Linked DNA regions of Homo sapiens. The protein of the gene in region 1 interacts with the protein of each later gene in a pairwise test. Each region holds a gene or a part of one and is shown on either strand. Other genes may lie near its edges.

Region 1 (3,822 bases):
ACTTTACCTTCACACAATTCCCAGAGGAGCATTGAGAAATGAGAGGAAAAGGGGGAAAATATCCCATTCTATGAGAGCCCCATCATATGTATATTTCATACTGATCCTTCCCAGATAGGAATATAATCAGTATCTGTGGACTTTGATTCTCTGTGGCACACCCATGCTGGCATACTGTGATTGCCCATTAAACAAAGAGTTTCTGAGAAAGTTTTATTCAATTCAGTTCTTGGTTGAAATATTTTCTCTTCATCAACTATAATGACATAATTTCATTAAACTTCCATTGTTTCCTTAGTTTTTAAATACAGGCTGGTGCTTGACTTGAATCTTGAATGTAGATTGAGGCCTATCAAGGGATTCCATTCCTGGAATTGGAGGATAATTACTGTAACTTTTATAGTTTAAAAAACCATGCTGCCAATGTCTGTAAACCACAGGTGTCTGTAGGTCATCACTGTACCTGGTTCTCTGCAATCCAGGTGTGCAGATGACCCTCCCTCCTGGGTGAACCATCTTCAAAAGGGAATGAGAGCCCAGAAAACCCCAGAGGGTGGGGTGAGAGAAAGTGAGTGGATCCAGGCTGACTATGAGACACAGTCTCTTACCAAATACTTTGTATGTGCTAAGGGTTAAACTAGATGCTGCAGGTTATTCAAAAGCCAGAGAAGATACACTTCTATCCTTAAGGAGCTTATGGTCTGAATAGGGAGAGAAAACTTGCTGTCATGAATCTATCTGAAAACAGTTCATCCTTAAAGGCATCAAATGTTTATGTATCAAATAGCATACACATCCCAACATATAGTTTGTTCTTATACATATGGAAACCAAAGTAGCTACAGGCACCCCTGGAGATCCAAATTAAATTGCTTTGATCCTTTTGAAACCCAGCCCCTAAGAACCCCAGTTCCAGTGCGTGTAGAAGTCTGTGATGTCCAAGGATTTCTTCTAATGCCATCCTCTTCACATCTGACCACCACAACTGCTGCCTTTGTCCAACCTTATGCAGACTAGATATGAATCTCTACCTCTTCTTTGGAATCCACAACAGCAATTTACTCAGAGAATTCATACCGGTAGTTGACACTGCAGAATATTTTTATAGGGTTTCTGCATGCGCATTGCACACAAGTTTCCACCATCTGTCTGAATGAATGGAGTCTGTCTTTCTCCCATTTCTGCTCCTCAGCCCCTTCTCCTTGCCCTGGGCTTTCTAAGTTTTTCTCCCTCTATTATGCAGAGTAAATTTGTTTCTTCTCCAAAATTTGATCATCTGCAAAGACCTAGGACTTCGTGGCAATAGGTGGGGGCAGAGGAGATTATAATGGAGATGAGTGCTCACCACACACACAGACCACTGATTAAAGGAATCTGATAGGTAATATATCAAGACAATACATACAAATAAACATGCATAAAGGGAAAAGGGTTTTGACAACCAGGAAAGAGGATGAGTAGTTATGCCTATTCTGCAGTGGTTCCAGGCTTCAGAGACAGCAGGTATTTGCAATGAAACAGTGGTATTGACCACTGGCAGCAGAAAAACACTGAGCAGCAAGGACAGAAAGGAAAGGAGGTGTAAAAGACCAATCTGGGCCAAAAGTCAGTGCTCAGAGGAGGTGAATCACAGAATAAAACTTCAAATGTGTTCATGTGAACACCTAAACTTCTTTGCTATAATTCAGAGATCTAGTAATAAGCAGACTTTTTTTTTCTTTTTAACATTGGATTGTACATCAGATACAGAATGTTTGTTGAACACAGGAGAACTGAATCCAATCTCTCAGCATCCCTGTATTCCTCGACTGCTGCTATGTTATTATTCCAATGCCATCCCCGTAGGGTTTCTCTGTTTGGGGTCTGGCTGCCTTTCATTGCATTTGCTATAAATTGGAATCATGATTACTGCCATCATTAATCTTTGGAGCCAGCATCTCTGCAGCATGTCTAATACAAGTGGCACTTCACAATAAATTGCTAGGCTCCAAAGTCTGCATTCATTGCTTTATTTTTTTTTATTTTATGTTTTTTTTTGTTGCCCATATGTCCTTCTCTTCTTCCTTTTCTCTCCTTCCCCCATTTTCCCAAACTCTTTTCTTTCCCCTTTTTTAATCCTTCTGACCCCACCTCTTATTTCTTCACTCCTCCTTGCTTTCCTTTTTTTCACCTCTTCTGTCTCTTCCCCTTGTGAATTATTGTCTCCTTTCAGCTCTTCCCCATCCTCCTCTTCCTCTATTTTTTTCTCTTCTCTATCTTTATTGATTTCTCTTTCTCCCATCTCACCCTGCCCCATGAGACAAATTTCCATCAGACCTGAATATGCCAAAGGCCTATTTTATATACTTCTTTAAAAGAAAGGACTTCACAGTTTGCTCAGAAAATATTAATCGACATCTCTCATAAATCAAACACAAGTGGCCTTTTAATTTTTATTTCCCCCTAGTCAAATGTACAATTCTAATAAATGAACCCTAAGCATAGCCGAAATACACTAAGCAGGTCAGCAGCACTTGGGTTTTACAGCATGGTAGTAAGCTGAAGCAGCTTCCATCCAAGAAAGCAAACCAACTGCCTTGGTTCCCTAAACACCAATTACCTCAAAGCCCTTAAGATCACAAACTCATTTCCCTGGAAACAGTTGGGATATTCATTTTTAATGAAACTATTAAAACTCTCCATACTGTGATTCAAAGGATAAACCATTCGTCAACATATTAAAATGGTCACACTTGTGTGAAAGTAGCTCAACATAGCCAGGCACCCCTGCAAGTAAATATGACCAGCATAACTCCACCAATTTTTTCCCATATGGTATCTCTGATACATCCCCTAGCATTTTCAACATAGATTGTTAATATAGATTGGAAATGAGAGGAAGGGAAGATAGTGAGAGAAATATCTCCTCCCTCACACAGGCTTACTCACTGAGGCTCCCACACATTTTTAGGTCTCTTGCCAGATTCTGAGTCTCAAAAGTGAGCAGCTGATAGAGACAGAATACAGTACACTGTCCACCTATAAGGAGCCTCAGAATCACCTGAAGGGCTTGTCAAGACACAGATTCCTGGGCCCCATCTTGAAAGATTATGACTTAGTAGAGGTGGGATTGGGTCATAGAATTTGCATTTTCTTTTTTACAAGTTCCAAGGTGATGCTGATGCTGCTGGTCTGGAGCCCACACTTTGAGAATCACTGGTTTTGTGCAGTTATCATAAGCTTCGGTGTCACTCAGCCTCAGGTCATGTTACTCATTTGGGCAGTTCCCTCTGACTCAGGAGACGATGTGTCTTTGTCTATAAACTGGGATAATGATAACTAGATTGCACTTTTTTAAAGAAATAAATATAATAAACATGAAGTTCAATAAAAAGGAGTTATTATAGTATGGCCCCAAATGGTCAACCTCAGTTGTATGTTCCATCAAAGTGGGACAGTCGTGGTTGGCCTACATACTTCCCAGGCAGTGTTTGGGTTTTGGACTACATAATTATATATTAGGAAGGATGCAGAAAATGCAAACTATTATCTACAGATCAGCAGTCTCAAAATTAAATGCACGTTGCAACCATCTGGGGAGCTTTACAAATTAAAAATAGTGGCTACTATGCTTGGTGATTCTGATGTAATTGCTCTGGGAAAAAGCTTCAGCATTAGGATTTATAAAGCTCTTCAAGTAATTATATTGTGTAGGCAAGATTGAGAACCATTGAACTAGATATATAACATATACAAGGTGCTTCTAGCACAAAAAGAAATGACCTATTAGTGATGAGCTCTATCATGACAAATACCAATGACTAGGCTAGCTACATTGGAATC
Region 2 (3,822 bases), on another chromosome or scaffold:
GTGAGCCATGATCATGCCACTGCACTCTAGCCTGGGTGACAGAGCGACACTCTATGTCTAAAAGAAAAAAAGAAATGAGCTAGTGTGAGTGAAGAACTGAATTTTTTTTGTTTTAGCTTCTTTTTCATCTTTTTACTTGCCAATGAATTTTTACTTGTATTTAAGTTTAAGCAATTTAAATGTGAAAACTAACAATTCAATTATTGGGAAGCTTTTATGTAAGTCTGGGACAACTTGAATATATGAATCATTTTTTCAATGGTAAATTTGATGAACACTGAATATAGATCAAAATGTTTTTTGATAAAAATTTAGCATTCAATTTGGGATAGAATGTCAATGTAAAAATACACCCTGGGTTTCAAAACTTAGTAGGAAAAAATGAATGTAAAATATCTCATTAATAATTTCTTATATTGATATATTAAAATGACCACAGCTTAGATATATGAAGTTAAGTAAAATGTATTGTTAATTTCACCTGTTTCTTTGTACCTTTCAAAATGTGGCTACTAGGCCGGGCATGGTGGCTTACACCTGTCATCCCAGCACTTTGGGAGGCTGAGGCAGGAGGATGGCTTGAGCCCAGGCATTCTAGATCAGCCTGAGCAACATAGGGAGACACTGTCTCTACAAAAAAATTAAAAATTAGCCAGACATGGTGGTGCACCCCTGTGGTCCCAGCTACTTGGGAGGCTGAGGTGGGAGAATCACTTAAACCCAGGAGTTCAAGTGAGCCGTGACTGCGCCACTGCACTCCAGCCTGGGCGAGACTGTCTCAAAAATAAATAAATAAAAACAAAATAAATAAAAAAGAGGCCAGACACAGTGGCTCACGACTATAATCCCAGTACTTTGGGAGGCCAAGGCAGACGGATCGCCTGAGGTCAGGAGTTTGAGACCAGCCTGGCCAACATGGTGAAACCCCGTCTCTACTAAAAATACAAAAATTAGCCAGGTGTGATATTGGGCGCCTGTAATCCCAGCTACTCAGGAGGCTGAGGCAGGATAATCACTTGAACACGGGAGGTGGAGGTTGCAGGGAGCTGAGATTGCGCCATTGCACTCTAGCCTGGGCAACAGAGTGAGACTCTGTCTCAAAAATCAATAAATAAATACATTAAATGTGGCGGCCAGGCACGGTGGCTCATGCCTGTAATCCCAGCACTTTGGGAGGCTGAGATGGGTGGATCATTTGAGGTAAGGAGTTCGAGACCAGCCTGGCCAACATGGTGAAACCCCATCTCTACTAAAAATACAGAAATTAGCCAGGTCTGGTGGCGTGCGCCTGTAATCCCAGCACTTAACCTGGGAGGCAGAGGTTGCAGCGAGCTGAGATCACACCACTGCACTCCAGCCTGGGCCACAGAGCGAGATTCCATCTCAAAAAAAAAAAAAATGTAGCTACTAAAAAATTTTAAATGATGTAATGAAGCTTGCTTTCTGCTCCTAATATACAGCAAAGCTGTGAGCCGTGGGAGTCACAGAAGGTTATAGAGAAGGGGAAAGGCCCAACCCCAGAAAAGACAGATGAGACAGAAGGTCTTTAAGAGGAGCAAGAAGCAAAGTAGAGAAGGCCACAGAAGCAGGAGGGCAGGGTGGGGCTGTAATGAGATCGCAGGAGGTGTTTGTGAAAACAGGCTCTGGTTTAACACTGAGACATGGTGTAAAGTGGTTTGAGGCGTGTTGCTAGTTTCCTCTGACGTACAGGAACAGAAATGCAGCAGTCCCAGCTTGCCCCTAAACTCAGCGGACATCCCTCCCAGATGACCCCGGGAACCCCTGACATCTGCTTCTGGCTTTGTTGAAACTTCCAGCAAAGGGAACGACAGGGCACCCTGGGGGTCTGGAGTGACCTACATCCGGGTTGAACGTCGAGGACTCGCCGTCACAGCCCCAGACCCACCTCCATGATTTATGGTGAAAACTGACTCGTATAAAAACTTACAAGACCAGGAAAAGCCAGTGTGTACAGAAATCCTCAAGGAGCATGGTTGGTCGTGATTGCCAATGGAATGCTTTGAGGGAAAACAAGGCCTGGGGCATCCTAAACCTCCAAGAGGCAATGGCTGAATTCGGCAGCGGCGCAATTCCTGCAAAAACCACGGCCTCTCCTCCCAAAGTGAGGAAACTGCATCTTTACAGAGTCAACACACAGGTGTGGGGGATGGGAGGATGGGAGCTTTCTTTTGACGACCTTTAAAAGATGGGTGGGCCCCAGTTTCTCGTTTTGGAAATTAAGGCCTCGGCCACCGCCTCTCCCCCTTTATTGAGACCATCTTTCATGTGGTAACATCTTATCTTCTGGGATTTCGAGACACTGCATCTTCTGAGCATTGCTTTGAGATCAAACAGCCACACAAACACATTTATAATTCTGAAAAGAACAAGAGCAACAGGCCAGAATAGTAAAAAAGACTCATAACCGCTGGTTTGGAAGTTTTCTAAATAAATTCCACAGTCTTCCCTCCCTCAGGCCCCAAGGCCAGGAAATGCCACCACGGTTAGTCCCATTTTGTTTCCCTTGTTTTGCGCCTTCATTTCAATTTGGCTTATCTCCTGGGATAAGAGGCCCACCCACCAACCATCCCTCTCCTCATCACCCCCCATCCCCTCCTTATCACCCCCCCAACTACGAAACTCTTAGAACAGCAATTAGTCCCCCTCACCCTAAACTCACACACACACTCTCCACAATGTCTTTTTTTTAAAAAAGAGGGAAAGGGAGAAAGAAAGAGAGAAACAGGGTCTCACTCTATTGCCCAGGCTGGAGTACAGTGGCATGATCATAGCTCGCCACAGCCTGAAACTCGTAGACTCAAACAATCCTCCTGTCTCAGCCTCTGGAGTAGGTGGGACTACAGGTGTGTGTCACCATACCTGGCTATAACTTTTTAATTTTACTTAGAGACAGGGTCTTGCTAAGCTGCCCAGGATGGTCATAAACTCCTGGGCTCAAGTGATCCTCCTGCCTCAGCCTCTCAAAGTGCTGGGATTACAGGCATGAGCCACCGTGCCCTGCCTCTCCACACTGTGAACCTGGGAGATGGAGGCTGCAGTGAGCCGAGATCGTGTCACTGCACTCCAGCCTGGGTGACTGAGCGAGACTCCGTCTCAAAAAAAAAAAAAAAAAAAAAAAAAGAAGGAAGAAAAGAAATTCGAACACTTTTTGAACAAAGGGCCTCGCGTTTCCATGCTGCACTGGAGCCCAGAAATTAAGTAGCCAAATGTGACCGGTGGTGACAGAAAAGGAAAAGGAGGCATTCCTGATCCATGGAGAATTTTGATCTGACATGCCCAGCTGTGGAATCACTTTCACATCTATAAATATGCCACTTGGGATATCTTGGGGTCCCTTTTAGCCAAAAGTTTTCCTCATTCTACCTCTCAACAATTTGCTCAACGAAAGGTATTCTTGCCCAGGCATGTTGGATCACGTCTGTAATCCCAGCACTTTGGGAGGCCGACGTGGGCAGATCACTTGAGCCCAAGAGTTTGAGACCAGTCTGGGAAACAAATTCAGACCATGTCTCTACAAATGGTACAAAAATTAGCCGGGCGTTATGGCAGATGCCTGTGGTCCTGGCTGCTCTGGAGGCTAAGGTAGGAGGATCACTTGAGCCCAAGAGTTTGAGACTGCAATAAGCTAGGATCACGCCACTGCTCTCCAGCCTGGGTGACAGAGCAAGACCTTGTCTCAAAACAAAAGAAAAAAAAATAGAGTCACAAAATCATATATAAAGACAATCTTTAAAAATTTTTTTTAATTAAAAAATATATATTAGCCAGACACGGTTGCACAAACTTGTAGTCCCAGCTATT

The links.
Region 2: the proteins of KCNIP4 (region 1) and LITAF interact in a two-hybrid assay, tested with the Homo sapiens proteins (one large-scale study listed by BioGRID and IntAct).

What each region holds. Positions count from the first base shown.
Region 1 is NC_000004.12:20,846,703-20,850,524, reverse strand, and holds part of KCNIP4 (Kv channel-interacting protein 4), read left to right. Parts: intron 1-3,822.
Region 2 is NC_000016.10:11,559,198-11,563,019, forward strand, and holds part of LITAF (lipopolysaccharide-induced tumor necrosis factor-alpha factor), read right to left. Parts: intron 1,970-3,822; exon of another isoform or gene 1,949-1,969; intron 1-1,948.